2 separate regions of the Homo sapiens genome follow, and region 2 is linked to region 1. Evidence: fine-mapped expression QTL. A gene starts in region 1. The other region holds a variant in brackets. All regions are shown on one strand. Distances are between the middles of the regions.

Evidence for each region. PIP is the estimated chance that this variant, and not a neighbour inherited with it, causes the effect.
Region 2: its variant is fine-mapped to the expression of DPH5-DT in whole blood (INTERVAL, PIP above 0.99).

Annotation. Positions count from the first base shown.
Region 1 is chr1:101,022,073-101,031,247 of GRCh38, reverse strand. DPH5-DT (DPH5 divergent transcript) reads right to left here and starts at 5,402. Exons shown (of 5, transcript NR_109849.1): 1 at 5,187-5,402. DPH5 (diphthamide biosynthesis 5) reads left to right here and starts at 5,464. Exons shown (of 8, transcript NM_015958.3): 1 at 5,464-5,565; 2 at 5,782-5,939. The coding sequence starts at 5,805. RefSeq lists a silencer at 3,682-3,741 and enhancers at 5,533-5,642, 4,735-5,934.
Region 2 is chr1:101,070,425-101,079,599 of GRCh38, reverse strand. DPH5-DT (DPH5 divergent transcript) reads right to left here. Exons shown (of 5, transcript NR_109849.1): 2 at 3,884-4,205; 3 at 2,092-2,237. Among named protein-coding and RNA genes, the nearest start is that of DPH5-DT, 49 kb to the right of the region's middle. The variant G/T (reference allele first, on the strand shown) is at 4,595.

The sequences.
Region 1 (9,175 bases):
TTACAAAGTGAGCAATGCTACAGGGGCAAATAAGCGGATAAAGTGATTAGAAATGTTGGTTGTAGTTTACATAAAATAGCCCTCACTGAGGAAGTGAATTCTGAACAATGACTTCAAGGAAGTGGAGCCAGAGCCACACAGCTATCTGTAGGGGCCAGGGGTACGGAGACGAGGAGGTGAGGCTGGAGAACTAGGGGAGTGGTGTAGATAGTGGGGGTATGTGTGTGTGGCTAATATACAGCCTGGTAGTTCGCTTTTATGAATTTTGGCTTTTGAATGAAAGGGAAACCACTCCCCTTCTCCCACCAAATCTTGGCTAGTTTAGCTATGTTTCCCTAAAAAACCTTAAAGGGACACTGTAAGTTTTTGTTTTTGTTTTTGTTTTTTATTTGAGACGGAGTCTCGCTTTGTTGCCCAGGCTGGAGTGCAGTGGCACGATCTTGGCTCACTGCAAGCTCCGCCTCCCAGGTTCAGGCCATTCTCCTGCCTCAGCCTCCCAAGTAGCTGGGACTACAGGTGCCCGCCACCACGCCCGGCTAATTTTTTTGTATTTTTAGTAGAGACGGGGTTTCACCGTGTTAGCCAGGATGGTCTGGATCTCCTGACCTCGTGATCCACCCGCCTCAGCCTCCCAAAGTGCTGGGATTACAGGCGTAAGCCACCGTGCCTGGCCTGTAGTTTTTTTAAATGCAAAAAGAGTGAATTATGTATCCCTGATTCTACCTTTTTAGCAATAGACTTTGGAGGAAGGACCTGCCATATACGAAAATGGGTTAGAAACAAACAGAAAGTTTACACATACATGCACATACACACAGGCACTTAAGGGAACATTCTGGGAGCTCCTTTACACAAAAACGCAGGGCTCTAGGTGACTTCTTTACGACAGTCCATATTGTTACTGATTCAATCTATTAAGCTAGGATGAATGACAATAAAAATTTCCACACTTTACACAGAAAATAGCTCTAGATTTGTTTTTTATGCATTTTTACATCATATGATTAACATATAATGTATGGATGAGTACTTAAAATCACTGGGTTTATAAAAAGTGACTTTTTCTCTAAGTAAACAAGTGTACAATAAAGTAACTTCAAATCTTTTAACCTTAGTAAATACAGGTCCTTATCCTAAAGCAATGTTATCTTTAATTATCACTTATTTGTGAATTGTTAGAAAATAATGACTTCAATCAATTAAGAGTCTGAGCTCTACAAATATTAACCAAGATTTCCTCTAACAAAGGCAATTTCTGGGAACATGTAGGTTAAAAGGCCAGCTTCATAGTAAAATAATATTCTTCATTCACAGTAAGGTCAGATGGAGTTTAGTCAGTCACCCTGATGTCTTCTTTTCAATACACAAACTGCTTAAACAGGACAATTGAAGGATGACTTCTCTTAAATGTAAGGTAATTATAATTTGTCCGTAAGGTAATGCAGTGACTCAACTATGTTATTACTTCAGAATAAAAGTAGCATATGATGTGTCTATGACAATGAAATGGAAAAGCCATCAGTATTAATTTCTTATGACTATCTGCATCTCTCTCACATTTTATGACTACTGACTGTAGGTCTCAAATATAAGGAAGAATTTGCCAGTAAAAATGAGTTACTGGCAAAGGTTATAAAAACATCTTAAAGATCCTTCATAAAAGCATAAATGTTCACCCTCAGGGATGACTTGGCATCATCTGACCTGAAAGCAAGAATACAAAGTAGAAAACTCTTCAGGTCTAATCTATCCATGTTATTCTTGAAGCCAAAAAAGGCTAAAAATCTTTCTTTTTTTCTTTTGTCCTATAATCACCTTTCTCTTTAACCATCACTCTCTCTTCTGCTAGACATGAGACTACAAATTTGCTGACATAAAAGAATTTGTCCTCTAACTGCTTTCATTATCATTATAAAACTATAATATTTGTTAAAAACTAATTTGAAATCGTTTTACAGCAAAATTTTCAAAATCCAGCCTAAATTAGGTGAAGCAATGATATCATTTAATCAGCTATATGCCTAGGTATGTTTTGTTAATCTATTACCTAGGTGAGGAGTTTATGTTTCAAGCAAAATGTAATATGTGTATTGATGGCTGCAACTTCCCTGGAAATGCATCAACAAATAAGATGGGTTGACATCTGGGTAAAAGGATAAATAAGTGATAAAGCAAAAACAGCAAAATGTTAAAACTTTAGAACCTTGGAGGTGGCTATATGGGTGTTGACTGTGACACTGTTTCAACTTTTCTATATGTTTGAAATTTTTCACAATAAATTGTTGGGGAAAATGTAATCACATTTGAAACCTGTTTTAAATGGCAAGGGAAAAATGTCCAAATCCCACAGAATTCTGCAAAATCCAATAGGCAAGATTTTTGCAGCTTATGTTTGTTGAGCTGAGGAGGAAAAACAAAAAAGATTACCATAATCCCTTTATCTGTCTACCTCCAGAAAAGTACAAAAAATTTACACTCTTATTGAGAAATAACGGCAGGTGAAAGGTTTGTTTGTTAAGAATTCTCCGTGGTAAAACTAAGTTCCTCTGGCTACATTTTGAAGCTTAAAAACAAATTATTACTGTTATTTCAGGCAATGTTTCACTTCCTTGATTACCCAGAATAACTTTATTTTCAATATAGATATATTTCCTGAAAGGAGATAAACCACACCTTCTTCAGATTACTTAATCATCCTTTTTGGCAGTGTCCTTGCACTGTGAATCTACCTGAAATTATTATTTTTTTAAATCTGAAAACAAAAAACATAAATGATCAACACATTGGAAAATGTGTTTACCTACTCAATAGCATGCATATGAACTATATGTTTTGTGTGTTGCAAGCCTTTCAATACAAATGACCTTCTAAAGTGGCATGAGACAGGCATATTTATATTTGATATTCCATTAATGATTTTTTTGGTAGTTTTTTAAAACATACCACCCTCTGTATTAATAAAGATGGAAAAATACGTAGCTCAGCTACTAGTGGATAATAATGATTTATTCAACAAACATTTATTTAATACCTATTATGTGCAAGGGATAGTGCTAAACCTAAGATGAGCATACAAATAAGATGCAGTCCCTGAATTAACTAAATCAATAGTTTGGTAAAGAAGAAATACAAATGAACAAATATAAAATCTCATAAATTGGTTAGTAAGTATATGTAGAGTAATACTGTAATGAAGAGGAGAAACCTAAATTAGCTTAGGGGGGTGAGGGTCTCTGGGAAGGCTTCCTGAACTTGGTCTTAAAGAATGGGTATTAGTGATCTAGGCAGGAGAGAATGGGAGACAATATTCTATGATGAGGCAGCAGCGTAGAGGAACAAAGCAGCATGTTGTGGGCAGAGAACTACAAGCAATTCAGTATTGCTGGAGAGAAAGCGAGAAAGCTCATGGTATGGAGTGGAGAGAGATGATGCTAAAAAGGTAGGCAGTGGCCACACCACGAATGATCTTGTGGGGTATGTTAACAAACCTGGACTTTCTCTTGGCCTCAGAAGGATCTAGAAGGGGTGTAATATTTTCAGATTGTTAACTATAACTCTCTGACCCCCTTGAGTGAAGGAGACATTATTATCAGCTACAAGAGTGACAAAATGAGGACCTGAGAATCAAGATGGTGATAGACGGTATGGTTTCTATTGAGATATACAGGCAGACATGACAGACGATGTGGGGGTGACTCCCAAGTGTCTGGCTGGGGTTAATCTGTTGATGACAATACTCTCCTCACCCACCCCCACCCCCGACCCATCCAAGTAGATAATATGGAAAGAAAAGCAAAATGGAAAGGGAAGGTGATGGATTCAACCTTGGATGTGTTGAATATGCTTCCGGGTTATCTAGGTGAAGATTTCCAGCAGAACGTTAACATGAAGCCAAGAGGGAGGAAGTCTGGATAGGAGGCTGAAATTTGAATCTACAAAATATTAGCGATACTAGGAATTCTGAGTGAACAGCCAGTTTTTGTGAGGTTTTGTTTGTTTTACTTAAGCCATTCTAATAGGTGGGTTGTGGTAGCTCATTGTGATTTAAATGTTTATTTTCCTAATGTCTAATGATGTTTAGGATCTTTTTTTGTTTGTTTAAGATCTTTTAAAATAATTATTTGCTATTTGTGTATCTTCTTTGGTGTCTATTCAAATCTTTTGCCCATTTTTAAACAACGAACTGTTTTATTATTGCTTTCTGAGTGCTCCTTATATATTCTCCATACAAGTCCTTCATCAGATACATGCTTTGTAAATATTTTCAGTATGTGGCTTCAAGTCTTTTGAAGAGCATAAATTTTTACTTTGTTGAAGTCCAATTTATCAATTTTTTTCATCACGCTTTTGGTTTAAGAAATATTTGCCTAAATAAGGTCACGAATATTTCCTCCTATGTTTTCTTCTGGTATAGGTTTAGGTTTTCCATTTACATCTACGATCCATTTTGAGTTTTTTGGGGTGTGTATGTGGTGTGAGGAATAGATCAACGTAATGAGAGGGGATAAAACACAGCCACGAAGAGTTTATAGATAGGAAGTGCAAAAAGGTGGATGGAACCTGGGAATGAAAAAAAGCCAAGGTTCAAGGAAGCGGAGTTGGGCATTGTCGGGGAGGCAACAGGAAAATTCTGAGTAACCAACACTGCCTGCTAAGAAAAGCAATGACAGCTGTCTTTTTTAACTTGGATGAGGTCACCTTGGGAAGAGCATTTTCAGTCAAAACAAATCTTCCCTATTTCTAATTACATGTAACCAACAGCTTTATAAGAATTCCCCCGGCAGAAACACTTGAGAGGTCTGAAATCCCTGAGCACTATTAAAGGTCACTTCTTTAGGTACAGGAAGGTCTGGGATTCCTGACACTGAGGGTGACTGAAACATCCTTGGGGCACTCCAGGCATAAGGTCTTGGGGACAAACCCAAGGAGTCATTGCCTTGTTGGGAAATCAGAAGCACACTCACTGCTGGGTTTGCCAATCTCACGCTTCACCAGGAAGACACCTAGTTGAACTACAGGAGGATGAGAAGACTGGAATTAAAATCTGTGCACTCGGCCAAATCCGGGGACAAATCAGGAAAATCCTTCCCAGCCCTCCCTGTTTCTGGAGAGGAGGAGTAGGGCGCAGGGCCCCTCCCGACTCTCTTCCACGTGGCTCCTCTCGAGCGAAGAGCTACTGCACTTACCCAGGCTTAGGAAGCGGGTGTTTAAGCCATGGGTTAGAGGGCTCGTGAGCACGCCCGATCCTTTCCCTGAGGCTATGAAACGGTGGCTCCACGGACTCCTCTCGGCCGACTGACCTTTCGCCGCCCTGCCCCAGCAGCCGGCGGGTTTCTTCAGTGGAGCCGGGCTCTGGTCTCCGCAGCCCAGTAGCCCGCTAGCCCGGCCCCCTCCCGCTAGTCGTAAAGTGCAGTAAAGGCACCAGCATTTTGCGGCACCGTAGGTGAGGCCGGCGGCGTGGGCCTTTTCTCTGCACGGAGCCGGCGCTTTTGCAGTTGCTTCTGCGGAAAGGTGGTAGTTAAGAATTTGTAAAGGCCAGAGAACTACCTACGATTCTCTCAGCGGGTAATTGGCTGCTCCTAGGTTTGTGTAACAAGAGGCAAAACTGGTAGGGTTGTTTAAAACCTCTTATCCCAGTTCTTAAGCGTGACATAAGGTTCCCAAACCCCTCCTTGTGACTTGCCTCTTCTCTTGTGCTACTTTGGTTGTCATCGTGTTCATCACTAGATTTTAGATGTCCTCGGTGTTACTGACGGTTTTTCTGTCCACTTCGTCTTGCAGTCTCTCTTCTCCTCAAGTTTGAAATGCTTTATCTCATCGGGTTGGGCCTGGGAGATGCCAAGGACATCACAGTCAAGGGCCTGGAAGTTGTTAGACGCTGCAGTCGAGTGTATCTGGAAGCCTACACCTCAGTCCTAACTGTAGGGAAGGAAGCCTTGGTAGGTGCTGAGCGTTCCCCAGCCTCCTGGGAAGAAAGCTATCTAACATCTGATTTTCATACACTAAGCTGAACAGAATTTTCAGGTCTGCTTGTTTAAACCCTTTGAAACGCATCCCTTGTTCATTAATGATCTGAGGAGCAGAAGAATGGAAATTTTACACCAACCAAGTGACTTGGAAAATGAAAGGGTGCTTTGTCCTATTTTACAAGTCTAATTTTGTGGCTTTCTCCAGTAAATAGGAAAGCTATTTTATACTCCTGGGGGATAGTTATCAAAACCCCTTATTTCATGAGGTAGTCAAGAAACCCTTTCTGAGTTGAGTGCTAATGAGGAGCTGACACAGCCTTAATGAGTTGGTTATATATATTCAAAAACCAAGCTGAAAGCTTCCCCCTTTGAAGTGTGTCCATAGGGAATGGCGATTGCCTTTTTGTATCCTATCCAGAGAGATCTTATCTTAAATAGACTATCTCCCAATAAGGCTTATACTGATACACTTGTATATATTGAGTGAGCCTGGACTTAATATATAAAAATGTATGAGTATACACTTACATGAGTATACACTAAGTAACCAAAGTATTTGTTAGTATATTATACATTTATAGTTGGCCCTCATAAGGGCCCAGTAAATTTGGGGGAAGGGTCAACTTCAGGTTCATTGTCAAACTCTAAGTAGAATGTAAATCAAAGGATTAATACATATGTTATGGGAGGAGGGAGCAGATTTATTGTCATGTCTTCCAAACAAAAAATAGACTTAAAATTTTTAGGCCTCAGATTACTTTAAAATCTTATAGAAGGAATTAAGAACTGCTACTTGAATTGGCCATGCATTTAAATAAAAGTTGTGTGTAAAGACCAACTTTGATATATACATATATGTGGAGAGAGAGAGAAAATAAGTCTTGCTCTGTTGCCCAGGCTGGGGTGCAATGGTATGATCATGGCTCACTGCAGCCTCAGCCTCCTGGGCTCAAGTATCCTCCCACCTCAACCTCTCGAGTAGCTGAGACTACAGGTGGGTGCCATCATGCCCAGCTAATTTTTTGTATTTTTTGTAGAGACAGGGTTTTGCCACATTGCCCAGGCTGGTCACAAGTTCCTGGACTCTAGTGATCTGCCCACCTCGGCCTCCTAAAGTGCTGGGATTGTATAGGCACAAGCAACCACACCCAGCCTAAGGCCAGCTTTGATTTAAAAAACATTTTTTTTTCTCATTTTTTCACTCTTAGGATAGAACCAAAATATCTAAGCTCGAAATGATGGAAATGTGCGTCTCTAATCAGTGATTAAGGAAAAGTAAAAGGAACTTAACACCTTCAAGAAAAGACAGACAAATAACAAAACAGCAGTTTGATAGAATGAGATATCAGGGGATGGCATAGAGGAAAGTTTGGTTATAGTTTTATCTTTGTTACATGTTAATGTGACCTTGGACAAGTCCTTTAACTTTAGTGTCTTTTTTAAATGGGGTAAAAAACATCTACTTTAGGTGTTCAGCATAATTCTTAGCATAGGTTCTTAACTATGGTATATGGCACAAAACTGTTCAGAAATAGAAATTGTCAATGTTCACATTTCCAAACTTCTCTGAACCTCAGTTTCTTCATTTGTCAAGTGGCAATTACCAGTTGGAGGGTTATGTAGTGTTTTATTGAGATGATGTATATGAAAGTGCTTTGTAAATTTTCAGTGCTAGCTAAATGTTAATTTTGGCTGCTGTTATTTTGTAAAGTATTTTTTTCCAAAGACAAAACTTCTGGAGTTACTACTTACAGAGTCAAGACCTGAAGCTGGACCCAGCCTTACCTACAGTAAATTATGTGTACTTTGTTAAGGTGCTGGAATATCTGTTTCTTCACAGTAATAAGTACTGACATTTATAGAACAGTTACAGAACAGTTACTGTGCACTGTTTTAAATGCTTTACATGTAGATTAGGATTATTATTCTAATTACTGTTCATTTTGCAGGGATAGAGAAGTTAACAAACTTGCCTAAGTTCATGCAGATAGTGAATGATAGAGCCAGGAGATGAACCAAAGCAGTCCTGAGTTGAAGTCTGCCACTCTTTTTATTATTATTATTATTTATTATGTTTTTTTATTTTGAGACGGAGTCTTGCTATGTTGCCTAGGCTGGAATGCAGTGGTGCGATCTCGGCCCCCTGCAACCTCTGCCTCTCGGGTTCAAGCAATTCTTCTGTCACAGCCTTCTGAGTAGCTGGGATTACAGGCGTGTGCCATTGCGCCCGGCTAATTTTTGTATTTTTAGTAGGATGAGATTTCACCATGTTGGCCAGGCTGGTCTCGAACTCCTGACCTCAGGTGATCCACCTGCCTCGGCCTCCAAAGTGCTGTGATTACAGGTGAGAGCCACTGCGCCCGGCCGAGGTCTACCACTCTTGACCTCTACACTGTACTGTGTCTCTGTATTCTTAAGGATAGATAATAGCTACACAAAGTTTAACTTCACAGAACACCTACAGAGAAGGTAGGATTCAAGCAAAATGGTCAATGCTGGATCCTGCCCTGCTTAATAATTTGTTCATGTACTCATTTGTTTGACAGATATTATTGAGTACCAGATACCGTTGCACTACAGCAATCCTTATAAATTTTAATAACTCACTCAAAGTTCTCAGTATGTAAGAAACCGTATTATTTATCTATGCATCCAGTTTTACTCCATTTGAATTACTTATTACTTCTCAGGAAATCAGTTTTAAGATTCATGATCCTTCATTCTGTACTGGCTGACGAGATGAAAAAAAAGAAAAGGATTCATGATCTTGCATAATAGCCCGTAACCACTATCAGATGACTACTAGCTTACTAGCTCACTCTCTACTGGATTTGTTCTCTAGAGTTGAGCTGCAGGGAATTAAATCACAAAGCAGTTTGTTTGCAAACTTCCTACATATTTAGAATTCAGTTACTGCTCCTGCAACTCTGCCTTTTTAGCAGAAACTAAGGAATATAGTTTTAAATTAGTATCTTCTGCATTTATGTAGGAATGTTCACTGGTTCTGTAAACAGCTAATTTTCTATTGTTTCTCATTGGTGCTGCCTTTTTTTTCTAGCTGAGTTGCCATATGTTTAACCATTGAAAATTTAATAAAAGCTAAACCACCATGTTTGTTTAAACTTATTGTTTAATATATTTATTCTGTATTACATCATGTTTCTGAAGTAGGGCTCATGTGTACATATTCCGCATTCATCCTACAG
Region 2 (9,175 bases), 48 kb before region 1:
TTCCGTTTGTCTACCACTCTCCCTGCATCCTCTTAACTCCAAATTCTGATTTAAAAAAAAAAAAAAAGGAACCACCTGTTTCCTGAGCACAGAATTAGATTATTGAATCAAGCTGGCTTACACAGATCCTTCGAATTTGAGTCTTAAGTGGAGGTGCCTTGGGGTGCTCTGGGTCAAAGAGTTCATGAGTTCTCAATGCTCGAGTCCTCAGAATTGTCCTGGTTTCTAACCTCCTGAAGCTTGCTTGTTCAGTGATACCTTTCTGTGAGCTACTCTAATAATTCTCGTGTTTAAGATGGTCTCTGTTGCATACGCACCTTTCTGCTTTTTGCAACCAAAAAAGAAAAAAAACCTATGTGGCTGTGTGGCTGAGTTCCCTTGGGGGAATTTAATCAGCCATCAGCTTTGGTCAACTAGGGGCTTACACAAGACAAATTAATCTGGAGGAGATGTTAAGGGTGGTAAGTAATTTGATATATCCATAACAGGGGAAAATGGTAGTTATAAGAAAAGAATCAGACTTGTGTCTACATCTACTACAGTCTTAGCAGAATATAACAAACCCCATTTAATTAAATTCCATTTAAGTCAATAGGCATTACAATTAGGCATTCACTAGATAAGCACTTGGGGGATATTTAGACGGATAAGGCTAAAATTTTGCTCTCAAGTAATGGCTAGTCTGGGGGAAGACTACATGTACACATATAAGTATAATACAAGGCAAAATATGCTGACTACTGTGATAAGATCAAATAAAAACACTTTGGGAGGCCGAAGCGGGCGGATCACGAGGTTAGGAGATTGAGACCATCCTGGCTAACACGGTGAAACCCCGTCTCTACTAAAAATACAAAAAATTAGCCAGGCGTGGTGGCGGGCGCCTGTAGTCCCAGCTACTCGGGAGGCTGAGGCAGGAGAATGGCGTGAACCCGGGAGGCGGAGCTTGCAGTGAGCCGAGATGGTGCCACTGCACTCCAGCCTGGGCAACAGAGCGAGACTCTGTCTCAAAAAAATAAATAAATAAATAAATAAATAAATAAATAAATAAATAAAAACATAGAGGAAAGAACAATTAATTTGGGTTATAGCATTAGCCAAACAGGTCAGCCTGCTGAAAGATTCAAATAGCATGTTGCAAGCCACCAATACAAAGGAGAGAAGAAGCCCTTTTAAAGAGCTGTGGCATTTTGAGATCTTGAGTAACATACAAATGGAAAAAGACTCCTCAGGTTTGTAGGCACTTGAGAAATATTGCTTTCTCACTTCTTACCTCATTTAAGTACAGGTCTAAGTAAAGGTCTGTAGAGGCAAAAATCCTTTCTTACCAATAAGTGAGTCCTTCCCTAACCCTAGTCTTGGGCTGGTAGGAAGTATCCCTATTCAGTGTCCCATTTCCTCACCAAGAGTGTTTTCCATTCCTGAGTTAGTTCAACAAGGGTAAAATCTGGATTAATGGCCCCCACGTCTTTGAAGTCAAGAAATGTACATTATTTTTTCCCAGATCTTAAATCTGGTGACTCAGCACAAATTCTAGCCTTGCATGTATCCCTCAACCAGACCGAGTATCCATTGCATGAACAATGACCCACGGACACCAGTGTAACCCCTGCCTCCTCACCTCCTGCACTGGCCCTGCAGAACTGAGATTCTGCCTTTTACGTAGCCTTTTTGCCTGAGAACAAGTTAGCCTAATTCTTGGCAGTCTTCTCTCTGGTTATGGCAGTGGAGTCTCTACCATGTGTTTTAAACCCTAGTTCAACAAGCAATTCTGTTAGAACCCGACTAATATCCTCCTTACAATGGAGCAGGTGTTGGCAAACTTCTTTAAAGAGCCAGATAGTGTATATTCTAGGCTTTGAGGGCCAGAAGGTTTCTGTCACAAGTATTCTGGCATTTTAAGTCCTAAAGCAGCCATAGACCACATTTAAATGAATGGGTGGAGCAGTAGTCTAATAAAACTTCACTTATAAAAAGAGGCAATGATTTGGCCCTTGAGTATAGTTTGAAGACCCCCTGCTTTTCAGCATCACTGTTCATGCATTCAGAATTCCTTATTCCCATGACCCATCTGTTTGCGAGAAAGCTCACCTTAATCTTTCCCAATCCTCCTTTATTTGCAAAGGTGTAGGCTTGCCCATCTCAGTTACAATATTCAAGACGTCCATGTACCTTACTTCAGTTCCTGGTATACTCCAGAGCCCACATGAACATTTATGCATACCCTATCATTCCATCTAGAGCCAAAGTAAAAAAAGAGAAGCGAGAAGTAGTGGTATGTATATAGTTATTAGCAGTTTGAGGGAAAAGAAAACAAAACAAAACCAAACAAAAACAGAAAATAGCCTAAAAGAAGTAACTGTTGCTTCTGGAACAAGAGAAAAGGAGAAAAGTTATAAGACAACAATCTGTTATATTCTGCAGGGAGCAGAGATACCTTGGCCAAAAGTAAAGAAAATTGTTTGGGTAACTCTCTAGACAATGGGAAGAAAACTGAGGCTCATAAAAGTTAAATGAGAGTTCCACATAGGCCTGTTAAGGAATTCCTGCTAATTATATTCATCTTGAAGCAAAGGTAGAAGATGTATCGCAATATCCCAAATTGGAAATCTAAATATATTTTCTGAATAAAGTTGTTAAATAGAGCGATTTTTTAAAATGTAGTAGTAGGTTTAATAGGAATCTGTAAGTGGCACAAAACACAATAATAACTGCTATTTAGTTAAGTGACAGTGTAGTGGACATTTTTTTCTGATTTTACCATCTAACATTCACTCCCCTTTCTTTTGGTAACACTATCAACAATTTTCTTTGGACAACCGTGCTTCCTGTGCCTTCGGTCCCCCTGCTTTGGATTGAGCTGAAACTATCCGATTTCAGGGACAGGCATGTGATCTAGGTTTGGATAATCAAAATATTGAACCCCCCTGGATCTACAGTTGTTTTAGGAACAGAAACATGCAAGTTTGTCTCATCAAAGTGAGGCCAAGACTTCTATAGGTATTTCAGGGAGAGTTGCTCTTTTTTATGTTATATTAGAAAATGGCAAGATGTAAGTTTAGAGTTGCTAAAGGATGACATTAGGAAATAACTCCTTTGACAGTTAAAGCAAGTATTAAGAAAAATAGGCTGTAGAAATGCAGATACCAAGTCCTGAGAATACTGTTTGAACCCTTAATATTTTAGTAATGAGTTAATTTTTTTAGCCAATTTTCTTTTATAATTCCTTTCCTCCTTCCATTATTCTTTCCTTCCATCCCTCCCTTCTTTCCTTCCCTTTTATCCCTGCAACTGAGAGTTGTAAAAGAAAGTAAAATAATACAGCTTATTTTATGTAAGTATATATAGCTTTCCTTTAACTCACAAAACAATCCTATGGGTGGGTATAATTACTCGGTCAACTGAGGAATTGCATAGTATGCCGCTGGTCATGCTATGCATAGTATGCAATTCCTCAGTTGACTTCAAAGTTATGATTCAACCTCAGGCCAGTATGACTCAAAGCAGGTGATCCTCACTATACCTCCTGCCCTCAGGTAAAAAGTCTTCTAAGGGAACTAAGCTTTTAGGTCTCAACAATTCAAATCTGCTTCTAATTTAGGGGCCATCTCTATACTAGGGGCCTAATGTGATGATAATAGATCAACTTTGGCCAGTGATGTGAAAATAAATGTACTTTTGAAAATGCAGTGACTCCTTGACAGGTGCCCTTTAGAATACTGGTGAATGGCTGTTGTAGAAAAGTCATTTCTGAAAGCTATTTTTATGAGGCAAACTGCATTTTCCACTTTTATCCCACACCTAATGTCAGGGATATGTTCTAAGAGAATACTTTTATTCTCATTCATTCTGCAACAAACATTTAGAGATATTTAGAGCTTACCAGGCATTGGAGAAATGTACTGGGCTGCCTAGAACAACAATTTGGACCAACGTTTGCATGTTCCCATCCCAGAAACACTTGTAGGTCCAGGGTGGTTCAATATTTTGATTGTCCAAACCTGGATCATCTACCTATCCCTGGAATCAGGGATGGTTTCAGTTCAATCCGAAGGACAGGAAGGCCATCTTAGATTGATAAGCCATCTTATGTTCCCAGTATCTGTCTGAAATAATTATATCCTGAGAGCTCTCGTAGTGTGAAGCTTTCTTCTACATGTAAAATTTCACAGGGAACCATGTTTTTCAAACAAAGGCATAAGAACCTGAAAGACAGTACAGAATAGTGATTAACAGGGCTGGCACTGGAGTTCAAGTCTCATCTCTTCTCAGCTGCATGACCTTGAGAGAGTTATTTAACGTCTCTGCGCTTCATTTTCCTTGTCTGTAAAAAAGGAATGATAATAATAGTACCGTTATTGTTAGTTGCCCATCCTCCCCTAAGTTTCTCAACTAAATGAACTACTGACTTGCTATCTAGTTTTTAATTTGAATATTAATAGATTATATTCACTTATATTGTGAATAAGTGAACGTTTCACTTATTTCTCTTATCTCTGTCACAATCTTTTACACACACACATGCAAATATGCTACATAAATTAGCTCTAAAAATGAGCAACTTGTAATACATGCCCAGCACTGTAATGTAAGT[G/T]AAATGATATTTTATTAGGGAGCAACCAATGATTTTTATCATATAAAATAAACAAGGAAATTTATCAAGATAGTTTTCATCATAAAATATATTTTTAAATATCTTTCTTCCCAAATTTTCTATTAAATTTGACCTAGCCATATGACTTACATAAATTATATTAGCAAAACTGAAGCCAATTATCTGAAATCATTTAAAGTATGGCTATTTCAGAACAATAATATGAGTATCATTTAAACAATGTTATAGTGTGTACACACATATCTGTCTTTCTATGTACCTTAGGGGTGGGAGGACAGACTGAGGCAATAGGAAAATCTCTCAAGTTAGTTTAGAAGTCAGAGAAATTTCCCTTTACCCTTTTCATCAGAATAAATTAGAACAGATCATTGGAATCTGTTTCAAACAAATAACAACTTTCCTAGTGTTTTTGGAATGCAAAGACTAAAATGTCTAAATTGTCACACAGAAAACCATACAACTCAGATTCCTAACACAGTTTTATGAATGAAGAGCTGAATCACTTTGTTATGTACAAAGGACTAGATAAATGCCACAGAAATGCTATAATCCTGGGGATTAATTCTTTTATTACTATTTAACTAAGTTGTCCTAGTGATTTACCAGTTCAAATGTGATATTAAATGCTATATTGTATGTTGCTCCATACTTGATTTTAAATGAATCAAATGCTTAATTACAGTATTTGGAATTTTTTGTTATTTTTAAAGGATTTTTAAAGTTTTTATGTACTTGATAGTAAGCTGAACACTTACGTTAGCTTCAGTTACACGATTGTAAGATTTTTTATTGTACAATTATTCTTTTAGAATTGAAATTTATACCAACTTTTGCATGTCTCCTTCCCTTAAACAATTGTAGGTCCAGGGAAGGAGGGTTCAATATTTTTATTGTCCAAACCTAGATCACATACACACCCCTGAAATCAGAGTACAGACAGCTGATGTTCAGTGTAGACAGCTGTCTAAACAATAAGAACTCTATGTATCAGGACAGGTGCTGTTATTATCCTCCAAATCTACAATACAAGTGTTGATTTATAAAAGATTTGGAGGGATAAGGCTTAAACATTAAAACAACAAGCAAATATCCCAGTAAAACAAAGCTGCAAATTTCAATCTATTCCTTACACAAGAGTCAACTATTCAATGAAAAATTTCAAGAAAAGTATAGGGGTTTTCCACTGCTTTGAAAGTATTTTGATAACACATAATAATATCCAACTTTGGAAATTTATCACAGCTATCTAAGAAGCTCAAGGTACCACTTCAAAGAATTATCAAGAATCACCTAGCATATTTCCAAAACCTGAAAAATCAACTTAGTTTACAAATTGTTAGACTATGAGTTTCTTCAAGACATGGACCACCTTTCTCCTCATGGTTTGCTGCTACCTTGCACAAATTAGGCACTGAGTATATGAAGGAGCATGGCAGACTGAAGTCCTACACCTACCAGAAGAAAGGCCACACACCCTTGTAGTCACATAGCTCCATCCTATTGGCCAAAAATCAATGGCCAGATGATCAAAAGCAGTGGTTCCCAACTGGGGATGATTTTACCCCCCAGGGATATTTGGCAATGTCTAGAGTCATTTTTGGATGTCAGAGATGTGCAGGGATGCTGTCATCTAGTAGGTAGAGGCCAGGGATACTGCCAAACATCCTACAGCACACAGGACAGCCCGCACAACAAAGAATTATCTGGCTGGAAATGTCAGCAGAGCTGAGGTTCAGAAACGCTGATCTAAGAGTTAATTGAATATTTGGCTGGGCACAGTGGCTTACGCCCGTAATCCCAGCACTTTGGTAGGCCAAGGCAGGTGGATCACTTGAGGTTAGCAGTTTGAGACCAGACTGGCCAACATGGTAAAACCCCATCTCTATTAAAAATACAAAAATTAGCTAGGCATGGTGGTACATGCCTGTAGTCCCACCTACTCAGGATGCTGAGGCATGAGAATCACTTGAACACAGGAGGCAGAGGTTGCAGTGAGCCGAGATCATGCCACTGCACTCCAGCCTGGGCGACAGAGTGGGACTCCATCTCAAAAATAAATAAATAAATAAAATAAAATAAAAATAAAATAAAAGTTAATTGAATATTCATGACGGCATCAGACAGTCATCCATAGCGGAACACGCTAAAATATACCTTGTTTAAGTTAAAAAAATTTCATTGCAAGATTCAGTACTCATCTTCCAAAACAGAAAAGCTGCTGGAATGAAAATGTGGAAGTAGAATGAAAAGCCTTCCATTTTCTCTCAACGAACACAATTTTTCATACATCTTCATGTTTATCACCACATGTGATATATTCAGGAACTGTGGAAGAACAGAAGTGATAATGATATGCTGATACATAAGGAGTCTCATGTCACCTAGAAAGTAGACTGACATTTGTTAATGAGACATTTAAAGAGGTCAAATATGGAAGGGCTAGATTTGTATTCAATATCTGGCATAAGAACAGTGAAACAGGAAAGGTAAAGGTAATAATGGTAAAGCAGGTAGTTAACATCTTTTATGTCCTCTCAGTCTGCCAGATACAATGCTACAACACCTTATGTGTATACTCATTTAAATGGTAAGATCTATCAATCTCAGAAGTTAAGTGTTTCAGAAAGAATATGATTTGATCATTTCTATAAAAATTGTACTATAACTTCCATTTTACAAGTCTCACTCCTCCACTAGACTGGGACCTTCTGGAACCTGCCCTCCAGAAGGTCCCAGTCTAGTGGAGTGGGACTCGTAAAACAGACTGAAAAAGTAGAAGTCCTAATGATGTCTTATTTATCATTAGGACTCATTCATCATTAGGACTCGTACTATACCACCAAATAGGCTTTTCATTAGAGATTAAGAGAATAAGAGTAACACTGTGCAACAAAACAAAAATCTAGGGGAAACCATCTAAAGTCCTCCAAATTCTAAGGAGAAGAGAGGTTATCATAAGTCTAGTCTGTGAGTTCTTCCATGAGCAAGATACTTCATTATCTCTGTATTCACAGTTACTAGTGAAGAGTCTAACACAGAGTAGACACTTAATAAGAATATTTTAAATTGAACTTGAGACTGTAAATATTTTCAAGTGTTTCCAAGAAAGGGAAATGTGATCCTCTCCTTTACATGGATCTTGACTCAGCAAATACAGTTACTTCTTTTTCTCATGTGTACTTGTTTACAACTCTTATGTGGTTCCTGCCATTTACTGTTCAGCTCTGATAACAACAATGAATGGCACTCAGACAAGGTCAAAGGGAGGCAACATTTTGCTTGAGCGATTTCTTCATTCAGCTATATATGTCAGTGTGGATGCAGAGTGGGTTACATAAGTAATGACAAATACTCCTTTCTTAATTCTAACACAGAGATCTACAGCTGCCCCATTAGATTGCTGCCTTATCTGGGGAGCTATCCTGTGGTGCTGCAGTGGATACTGTGGAAAAAGGAGGAAGCAAAGAAGTGGAAACAAGACAGATGTGCCAAGGCAGAAACTACACTCTAATTTTGAGTATATTATTTAGATACCACCATCAATCTATCCTCCTGATGTTTTATCAACGAAGACAAGACTTACATCTCTTCCCTTTTTTAGCCACTCAAAAAAGATCTCACTAAACTTCAAACTCAAGCATATTGGCATAATAACAGCAACTATTAAGAATTTGCTTCCTATTTTTTGACTTAGAAAAGATGTTTTCTTCATTATCTCCATGAACTAATATTTATGAAGTACTCTCATGTATTGTACATGCATATCTATCATATACTACTCTGAGAAAGTTAGAGAAGTTCCTGCCCTGTGGGGGTTTTTGTGTGTATTGTAGGGAATGAAGGAGAGTTAAAAAAAAAAAAAGGCCATATTCTCTCCCTCTCAAATGTCTTAATCAAAAATATTATAACCGGGCACAGTGGCAAGCGCCTGTAGTCCCAGCTACTTGGGAGGCTGAGGCTGGAGGATCGTTTGAGCCCAGGAGTTCAAGGCCAGCCTGGGCATCAGAGTGAGACCCTGTCTCTAAAATATTATATATACATCATATAGTCATATATATATATATATATAACTGTAACTTGACAATATCATAGATCTGACCAGACCAAATGATAAATATATACCTCAGAATATGGAGTGGGTGAGTAAACATAAAATATCACTTTCACAGTTCTTTTAACACAAATGATTTATAAATTTATTGATTCTAAGATGACAAAAAAAGTGTCCCTTAGATAAGCTCTGGTCACCTAGGGTCAGTTTCCAACAACAGATTCCTTCTCAGTATACTACCCAATGGTGAGAAGACCCCAAAGTGGACAGCCGGAGAGCTGCAACACATGCAAAACACTTGCAACCCTTCTTGTTTTCTTATTTTTCCTGTTTTCATTGGCAGAATTTTTTCCTTGCTCAAAGCAGAGCTGCAAATGAAAGCAGCTGCCCAAAGTGGAGGAAGTTCAAAGACCAGAGAAGAAAGAGAAAGGAGGTGGGGGTCAAATGAGGAAAACAACGGAAGACAACATGAAGACTATTGGCAACTCTGTCTTGTATGAAAGTCTAAA